Regions from separate parts of the Homo sapiens genome. Here regions 1 and 2 are each reported to be linked to region 3. The links are microRNA targets in miRTarBase. Many come from high-throughput screens and were not tested one by one. Region 3 holds a microRNA gene; each other region holds the end of a gene's coding sequence.
What was found. The annotated mature microRNA hsa-miR-654-3p reads UAUGUCUGCUGACCAUCACCUU and lies in region 3 at 1,910-1,931, shown strand. An mRNA with a match to its seed (bases 2 to 7 or 8) in the 3' UTR can be bound and repressed. Matches are read on the target gene's strand: a 7mer-m8 pairs with bases 2 to 8, a 7mer-A1 pairs with bases 2 to 7 and ends in A, and an 8mer does both.

Region 1 (3,259 bases), not on the chromosome of region 3:
TAGAGACAGGGTTTTGTCATGTTGCCCAGGCTGGTCTTGAACTCCTGAGCTCAAGCAATGTGCCCGCCTCGGCCTCCCAAAGTGCTACGATTACAGGCGAGAGGCACTGCACCCAGCCCATGGTTTCCTAACACTGCCTCACTTTGATCTTGTGTGAAATTGTGACTCAGTGCTGAGCTTTAGACCCAGATAAATGTTGAGGGGGAATACAGAAGAGAATTGACCTTTCTGAACAGCTCAACCTAGTTTCTAAAGGCAAGATTTTACTCCAGCGACATGTACTGGTGACCATGATGTCACTCTGTGAGCTGGCCTCACCAGTAACCCAAACACAACGCTGAGGAAGGAGACCATTTCCCACCAACAGCACACACCTATGGCTGGGGTGGCCAATGATGGGGCACCAATAAGGATAAGAGTCTTTGGCGGCTTTCTTTTTTTGAGCCCATATTTTATCAATTTAAAGCATGAGAGCAGCAGAGATGGAGAGTAGAGAAAAAAACAGGTTTCCCAAGAACTCTGGCAAGAATGTTGCTACTTGGTGAAGGAATGGTTATCATTAGTGCACCTGTCTTAAATCCTGAAATGCATCTTGGGACCTGCAGTTCAATATTTTGAAGACTACAAAGGTAGCAGTGGCTGTTGGCCTCTCCAGGTCCCTGCTGGGTCCCAGAGATGAGAAAGGGTGGAGTTAGTAAAAGAGGAGGCTGCCCCTTAAAGGACAGTTTGGTTTGGAGGGAAATCCCAATCCGTGCAGCTGAAAGATTCCCTGCAGGCCCCTGGGGACCTGCTGTCACCTCCCCAGTGTTCCTGACTGGTCTGAGAGGTGTGCTCCAGAACCCACGATAAGACCGAGTTCTCTAGAAACTGCCTCTATCTCTGAGTCTGTACTATGGCTTATTTCTGACAGAATGAAACTTTTGTATCAAAGGAGCTTCAGCTAAAGTTGAATGTTTTTCTTTCTCAGTTTTTATGGCCTTATTAAACATGTTTAGCTAGCCAAAGCTTCCTCCTCCTCACCATGCTCAGTGTTAGCATGGTGGTGAGGCTATAAAGAGGCACCACAGGAAGGAGCCTGCACTTCCCCCATGGGATTTAAAAAAGAACCAATTTGGGCCATGCTTGGTGCATCTAGCATAATCTTGGGACAAATCCACATGATTCAGGTCAAAGTTTTGGAGTTAATTCTCCCATTATTATTTGCTCCTTTCCAAAGCCTTAATGTGAAATTCAGTCAGGGTCTGGCCATGGTGGCAGGTGTCCCTACACTCTTTCATTCAGAGAAGGAGCAGCTGTGAATACACCACTGCAGTATTTCTAATGACATCTTGAGCCATAAACAACATAACTGCACTACCATATATCCAGGCAGTAGGAGTGTTCAACGTTTTCTAGTGTTTCTGTGAAACACTAAATATTGGATTAGTTTGAAATGCAATTGACCCCAGGAGTAGGCTCAATAAGGTCATTCTGATTAATGAAAATGTGAAAAAAGGTGACATGTACAAGGAAACACTGCTGTTCATATTCTTGAAATAGACTTTTCTTTAAGACAAAAGTAATGACATTTGGTTCATTTTCACAAATTGCACACTGGGTGAGATCATACAATTACTGCAGGGAACTGTAGGCAAGCAATTTGGTCATAGGAATTTGTTTCTTTGTCTTGTTTTAAATGAAAAAGCTATATGAAATGCATAGCTTTGATTAACCTAAAGATACAGTTTCCTTCTTTGTAAAACTCCAGATTTAGGATGCTGGCAAAGGCAGTGCTGGCAAAGTATTTAATGCACATGGAAATGCTATTCTATTTTGGCTTCCAGAAGTAGCCCTAGTAAATTCTATGCACCAATGCATTGGCTAATAATAATTTCAGTTTTACTATAAATTATCTAAATGTCACTTAAGTACTTAAGAAGTAGCGCTCGCTCCTTTCTAGAAGCTGTCTAAGGCAGCTGATGCGTAAAGCACCTCATCTAGACCTCCAACTAGTTCAGCAGTTCAATCTGTGCCCCTCAGCCACAGGACTGCCCTCAGTATCCCTCACTACACAGCTCCCCTCTCCTGGGGACTTTTCATGTTCATTTCTGCCTTGTCAAAGGCAGTCCAGGCAAGGAAGAGAAACGTCAGAAACACGATCGTCAAGGACTGCTCCGTGTAGCAATCTCAATTCTAAGAATAATTACATGGGTGTGAGGAACACAAAAATCCCACCTCACAGAAGATAAATGAGTTGCACTCACACTGCCAACTCTTCAGGGATTATCCCCACTATCTCCTCAGAAAGCATGCTTTCTTTGTTATATCATCTACTGCTCTGTTGGCCAGACTTTCATTCACACTATGTTAACTTTCATCTCAATCATCTCAGCCTTCATGTGATTTGCTTATTGTGTTTCTCTAGTTTTCACTGAACACACAGTGCAAACAAAGGCAAAGACTGAAGCAATCATTTCAAAAACAAGAGCTCACACTACAAACACACATGAGCATCACATATTGAAACGTAGGCTTTCTCTTGTCTTTATTCTGGGGAGGAGGAATCCTCCTCATCATCTTCCTCATCTTCATCATTGAACGAACAGGGGGTCTCGCCTCGGGACTCGGAGCAGTGAGAGGCCGCACTGCTGGACTGGTGACTGTTTGGGGCCAGGAACTGCCCAGTTGCTAAGGCCACTTCTGCATCCAAGCATAACCCTTGGTTTACACTAGCAAACAATTAAAAACACACAGGCTCATTAATGTGGTATAAACAGTTTTGTAAAACATAGGAATAAAAACAGGAAGGAGGTGCCATTGGTGAGATCTGCCACAAACCTGCTCAGCAGGACCTGTGCTGGCAGTAACATGACCCCGGCTCACCCCTACACAGACAGTCAGGGCTCTGGGGTTTGCCTTTCTAACCCTGAAAAAAATACGTACCTTGACTGGGGTAAGGTGGCACCAGTGGTCAGGTCTAAATTTGAAACTGATTGGGTAGAGTTCAGAAGTAGTCCCTGATTTAACCAAGAAGGTCCTGTGGAGATATCTAAAGGAAAAAATGAGAACAAAAAATGTCGGTCCTGCAAGTTCTGTGGCTGCTGTTGTTACAGTCTGAGGAAAGCACAGAAAAGCAAGAGCTAAGCTTATTCTTCATGACAGCTAGACAATTCTCTTGCTGTGACAAGAACCCAGGTTTCTTCATCTTCTTGGAAGAAAAAAAAATTTCTAGAACATAAGAGCAGGAAAAAAAAAATACGGGAAGGCAGCTTACGGAGAG
Region 2 (3,250 bases), not on the chromosome of region 3:
TTTGCCCAGCGACAGAGCTGCATGAATACGTTTGCCAGCTGGTTTGGCTACATGCCGCTGATCCACTCTCAGATGAGGCTCGACCCCGTCCTCTTTAAAGACCAGGTCTCTATTTTGAGGAAGAAATACCGAGACATTGAGCGACTTTGAGGAATCCGGCTGAGTGGGGGAGGGGAAGCAAGAAGGGATGGGGGTCAAGCTGCTCTCTCTTCCCAGTGCAGATCCACTCATCAGCAGAGCCAGATTGTGCCAACTATCCAAAAACTTAGATGAGCAGAATGACAAAAAAAAAAAGGCCAATGAGAACTCAACTCCTGGCTCCTGGGACTGCACCAGACTGCTCCAAACTCACCTCACTGGCTTCTGTGTCCCAAGACTAGGTTGTGTACAGTTTAATTATGGAACATTAAATAATTATTTTTGAAATGATTGCTATGCAGGTTTAAACTTTTTTAATGATCAAAACTATTAAAAACCAGAGTTCTTTGTTTAATCAAAATTGTGTTGGTTGTGAATATTTCAAAGCTGCTATTCCTTTTCCCACAGACATCATTGTCATGGCCATGTAGGGTGCCCTGCAGTTTCAAAAGCTCAAACTTCGTGGAAAACACAATAAGTCACTCTACCCATTATCAAGAAATAACTGAGCATAAGTTGTAACTTCATTATTCAACTTTGCCAGTGCAAATTGTTTTCCACTTCGAATCTTCAAATCCACTTGAACTTTTATCTCTAAAATGTCGCTGCATGAAAGAAAGTATTACGACTTCCAGGTAGGCAGTTCTAACTGAAATCTCTATGTTTGAGATAGATATATATGATAATCGTTTTTCATTGGGGGGGTGGGGGGAATTAGTACCAAGAAAACACTAGTATAATTAAGAAATGTTCAGTTTGCACAAAGAACTATCCAGATAACCCACCAGCATGTTAGTGAGATGGAAATACAGACCCACAACAGTAACCCAATACTTGCAGGGGTTGGGGGCACGGTTATAGATTCAACCATTGACCTAAGTCTGCGTAGCACTGGGAAGAGGCTTTGGTTTAGAAGCCAAGGAATAATGAGTATATTGGGGAGAACAGATTATTTACAAGATGAACTCTTTAATGTTTGTGAGAATCTCAAGTTTCAGAGTTTCTCTTTTGAGAAAGAAAAAGGGGTAATAAGGTAGAAATTCACACCAATGAACAAGAGGATTGCTGCAAAGTAACTGAGGAGATGTCTCGCCATTGGGACCCTAATGCCATTTTTGGTCAAACATTGTTTTGAGCAAGAATCTGGCAAACAAAATAATCAACAACAAATGTGAATATAGTTTCATTTACTTTTAATTTTTAAATCTGTGGAAAAGTTTAGTTGTGCTTCTTGTTAAAAAGAACATTTCTATCCCTGAAAATGCTATCTTGGGCTTATGATTATTGTTAAACTCCAAGTATAAACTGAAAAAAAAAACATATCCCTAACTCTGTTATGAAAAATGGAGACTTCTGATATTAAATGCTTTCTTCTACTTGGAAGAGGCCAGAGAAAACAGGGAAGAGAAAGACATTATTGAGTTTGACCATGTATTATGCTGAATAAACAATAAGCACTTTAGAGTCCCTCCCTCAAACTCTCATACATTTCATATTTCTTTTCCATTTATTTTCAGTTTTGTTTTAGAAGAAAAGTTCATCAGAGAATTTTGTTCTGATAATTTCAAGTGGCCATCTTAGGTCAGTGGAAACCGTAAGTCCATTGGACTTTACCTCATCCTTTCTTTGTAGACATCTGGGAGAGGAAGAGGAGCTTGTAATGATAGCACGGGGATGGTGCTGTAAACAGGAGTGAAAGTGTTTGTGGAAGTCCAGAGAAGTGACTCAACAGGCTACCTAGCTGCAGAACAAGGAGTAGAGCCCACATATCCAGATGGTGTTTTGAGAGGTGCGTAGACAGTGAAATTCAATTAAAGAGAGGATTTTCTCCTCAGCCTCATGACTCAGAACAGCTCCCTAAATACCTCTCTCATCTAATTGGACCCATCCATAGTCCATTCTCAAACATGTGACATTTTCCCCTAAGTAGATGTGATTATCTCTTAGGCATTTGTTGAAAAATAATTCTTAGGTCCATGGTGCTTGCACTTGTGTCTTTTCTATAAAATGTTTGGTCTTACAGGTTTCATGTCATTTAAGCTGCACTTCTCAGCAAGTTAAAAGATTAGCAGTTAATCTTTATTCATTTGGCCTTTGTGAATTTGTATTTAAATTATTTTTTTCAGGATTGGCAAATTATTCTTGTTTCTCCTTTACCAAAAAATAAATGCGATATTTTGTTCAATGACCCCAAAACCAACTTGAAACTTAGGTGGTCATATTGGCTTGCAAAGCAATGTCCCTAATTGTACCAGTCAGTCACACAAGTGGATTCAAGGACCTGCTTTGCCAGATTGACCTGTCACCAAGCTCACAACACATATCCTCCACAAACAACATGTGTTATGTGAAGAAAAATGGTAATTATAAATAAGAACAGGATATAACACACCTTTCATCCACTTTAAATCTCCACAGTTTCATTTTATGTCATTCTCTGAGCAAATCTCTTTGGGATGTGAGCTAGCGTGTTCTTCTCCCATTTGGAATATAAGGCTGGGAATAGAACAATGCTTAACAAATCAGTGAAGCTCGACAGTAATATGTAATTTTAATTCAGTTAGGAAAGAGTTGTATTGCATTGCAACAAGTTGACAAATCATAGCCATCTCTGTAGGGTGTCAGGAATTATCTCCTGGTCAACTTTAATGATAACTAGGGGTCCCTAAGTGGGCTAACATGTGCTGCATTGGAGAGAAGCCAAGGGCTGAGAGTACAGTGCCAACCACGTAATGAATTGCTTGCAGAAATTCCAAAGAGGACTCAGCCACTTATGGATTTCCACACAGCATCTTTTCCCAGCTCCACATTAAGACACAGGATCTTAAAAGTAATTTTTTAAAAGCTGGCTGTGTATTTATTTATATGAAAGTGTTATAAATATCAAAGCTTACAAATACATTAATACATATCACCTTTGTTGAAGCTAGCAAAATGGCTCAAAATTGAGACTGTAGAGAAAAATCCATGAAATAATCACGATAGTCATACCACAAAAGATAGCATAGCTAGGTGGGCCTACCTGGTCGTATCAACACACTTTCAGATAGATGCTTCAAAAAAAAAGGGAAAGCTTGTTACTGGAATCTTATGTGCATTACAGTTTAATTTC
Region 3 (3,259 bases):
TGGTGGTGGTGGTGTTGGTGGTGTTGGTGGTGGTGGTTGTGATGGTGGTGGTACTGGTGGTGTTGGTGGTGGTGGTGTTGGTGGTGGTGGTGTTGGTGGTGGTGGTTGTGATGGTGGTGGTGGTGGTGGTATTGGTGGTATTGGTGGTGGTGGTGGTGGTGGTGGTACTGATGGTGGTGGTGGTGTTGGTGGTGGTGGTGTTGGTGGTGGTGGTGGTGGTGGTGGTGGTACTGGTGGTGGTGGTGGTGGTGGTGTTGGTGGTGGTGGTGTTGGTGGTGTTGGTGGTGGTGGTGGTGGTGGTGGTGGAGGGTGGTGGTGGTAGGGGCTGGTGAGCATCATGTTTTGCTACCTCTCTCAGTTGTATTTAAAGAGACATTGTTTTTGACCTGTTTGCCTATTCCTCAGTCTGTCACACCAACATGACCAGTCCTGCCGATTGAAACTTTCTGGACACAAGCTTCAGTCTCTGGAAGATTCTTGGGTGTCCTTCTCCCTCCAAGGTATGTGAAGGATGCTCCAGCCCACAGTTACATGACATTGGTCATTAGGTGCCTTGGGAGGGCTTCATGGAGGCGATGTGACTTTAGGAACCTGACAGGCTTATTTTCTTTTTGTTTTTGATATTTTTCGAATTCAAAGCATAGAATCCCTACTTTGCCTGCTTTACTTGTGGCAAATTTTTGATGTACATTCACTTTTTTTTTTTTTTTTTTTCAGAATTAAATGCTACTTTGGAAACGCTCTTGACCATGAAGCCTCCATTAGGGAAGAGACATTAGGGTTACCCCCACCCAGACGAGTGACAGCAGGGCAGACCCCAAACTTACGTTTGCCTGCATAGGAGTTCCATCTCTGGATGTGAAGAGGCCAGGGGTGGGCCCTGCGCTTCCCACGTGGGACTCGCAAAGTGCTCACCTGCTTCTGTTACCTTCTGTCTTTCATGAATCATGTTTGCGTTTGTGCTCTCCAGGGCTGTTCCCACTTTTCCCATCTAAAAGGTGGATGTTCCTTCTATGCTTACAGGATTTATGGTGAATCATAGAGGAAAATCCGCATTTTCAGTATCTAAGGCTGCTTTTAAAACATTTCTGAACATTTCTGAGAGGAAGGTTAGCTCCCTCCCCCATGCGGAGAGTGATGGAAGGTGAATCCCAGAACCTAAGCTCTTGTTAGCAAGGTCTGTCCTGGGACATGCGTCCTCCGCAGGGCCCATGTCACTGCCGCTAGCCCGGGAGGCCCCTGCCGACTGCACCTATCCTGTGCTGTCTTTAATTTTGATAGATTGTGCTTAGGTTCATGCTTTCCAGGACTCAATCCTTCTTTGGTATTTAAAAGGTGGATATTCCTTCTATGTTTATGTTATTTATGGTTAAACATAGAGGAAATTCCACGTTTTCAGTATCAAATGCTGCTTGGAAACATTCCTGGACTGAAACCACCATCAGGGAAGAGACAATAAAGTCCCCCCCCCCACTCCAGGGTAAGTGGAAAGTCGGTGGACCTCAGAACATGTGCTGAATTCGTGCCATATGTCTGCGGACCACCCACCCGCCTTGAGGAGACCCCTCTCGCAAGCTGCCCGCTCGGCCAAGCGGCTGGGCTCCGTCGTCATTTTCTCCATGAGGCCGAATGCTCTCCTCTGTGCTATGTTACTTTTGTGTTTGATGGATTGTACTTAGGTTCGTGCTTTCCGGGATGAAACCTTCTTTGGTATTTAAAAGGTAGATTTTCCTTCTATGGTTACGTGTTTGATGGTTAATCATAGAGGAAAATCCACGTTTTCAGTATCAAATGCTGCCTTGGGATCATGGCTGGACTGAAGCCACCATCAGGGACGTGAGGTGGGGCTGAGCCCTCCAGGGTAAGTGGAAAGATGGTGGGCCGCAGAACATGTGCTGAGTTCGTGCCATATGTCTGCTGACCATCACCTTTAGAAGCCCCCTTTCGCTGAGGAGCCAGCTTGGTGCACAGGCTGTGGTGTGTTGTCACAGCTATGCTACGGGACTGAAAACGGTTGCTTTACTGTCTTGCTTCCATTTTCCATGAACTGTGTTCAGATTTGTCCTTTCCAGAGCCCAGTCCTTCTTTGGTATTTAAAACGTGGATATTCCTTCTATGTTTACGTGATTCCTGGTTAATCATAGAGGAAAATCCATGTTTTCAGTATCAAATGCTGCTTTGGAAATGTTTCTGGAAGAGACCGTAGGGCCTGAGTAGGTGCAAAGATGGTAGGCCGCACGTCGTATCTGAATGAACGGGGTATGCCCGAGAACCATCTCGAGACGCCAACTTGGTGAAGATTAAATTGTGGGTCTCGTGGTGCCAGTTCTTCCCTGGAAGCTCGTCTGCCTCATGTGACTTTCTTTTCTGATGACTCAAGCACAGGTGCACGCTTTCCTGGATGGAATCCTTCTTTGGTATTTAAAAGGTAGATTCTCCTTCTATGAGTACATTATTTATGATTAATCATAGAGGAAAATCCACGTTTTCAGTATCAAATGCTGCTTTGAAAACCTCGGAGGACGTGAAGTCGCCATGGAAGAGGAGATGTTATCTGTACCCCTCCTGGGTACAGGACGGACAGACACAGAATTGTACTTTGTATGAAATACGCCGTCAGCTTCTCTGCTGTTTGCTCACTGCCCTTGGTGCACACATAATGTGTTGTTACAAGGCTGTGTTCTCAGTATTGCCTCATTGACCTTGAATGAAGTTTGTTCTCTGTATGTTTACCATGATTGCAATGCATTTTCTGGAATGAACCTCTTTTACTGTGACTAGTTGTACCTTAGAGAATACCTGAGTGGGCTGTCAATTTCAGGAAGGGGCACTGCTTCAGGGGCTATGGAAGGAATAGATGTGTGATTCACCCACGGGCCTGCACTTCACACCTCGGTGTGCTGCTCTCACCATGCAGATCCCATCTGTGTCTCTAAGGCTTGCTCCTGGAGCTGGTGGCAACTTAGTCACAGAGGAAATGGCCTTCCTGTCACTGCCATCATTTGCTACTTGAAGAGAGGTAATCCTTCACGCATTTGCTTTACTTGCAATGATTATACAAGGGCAGACTCTCTCTGGGGAGCAAATCCTGCCTGGGAAGCCTTCTTGGGAACAAGGCTGACTCCAGCAACCTGTTAGATGGCCAGGATAGCCCTGGGGTGTGGATGGTTGACCACAGGGCATGTGCCTCTGTCTTGCTGTTTGTGACCTGGTTCTCTGACCCTCCTCATCTCATGCTTCCTTCCAAGAACTTTCTGGA

Region 1: the mRNA of TFDP2 is a reported target of hsa-miR-654-3p. The part of its 3' UTR that is shown has no 7-base or 8-base seed match.
Region 2: the mRNA of EXT1 is a reported target of hsa-miR-654-3p. Seed matches in the 3' UTR shown: 7mer-m8 at 544-550.

Annotation. Positions count from the first base shown.
Region 1 is chr3:141,949,989-141,953,247 of GRCh38, forward strand. It overlaps TFDP2 (transcription factor Dp-2), which reads right to left. Exons shown (of 13, transcript NM_001178139.2): 12 at 2,923-3,028; 13 at 1-2,708. The coding sequence ends at 2,525. Among named protein-coding and RNA genes, the nearest start is that of ATP1B3, 75 kb to the left of the region's middle.
Region 2 is chr8:117,796,612-117,799,861 of GRCh38, reverse strand. It overlaps EXT1 (exostosin glycosyltransferase 1), which reads left to right. Exons shown (of 11, transcript NM_000127.3): 11 at 1-3,250. The coding sequence ends at 150. Among named protein-coding and RNA genes, the nearest start is that of SNORD168, 120 kb to the left of the region's middle.
Region 3 is chr14:101,038,360-101,041,618 of GRCh38, forward strand. It overlaps MIR654 (microRNA 654), which reads left to right and starts at 1,860; the gene lies at 1,860-1,940. MIR376C (microRNA 376c) reads left to right here and starts at 1,331; the gene lies at 1,331-1,396. It overlaps MIR376A2 (microRNA 376a-2), which reads left to right and starts at 1,710; the gene lies at 1,710-1,789. MIR376B (microRNA 376b) reads left to right here and starts at 2,077; the gene lies at 2,077-2,176. It also overlaps MIR376A1 and MIR300.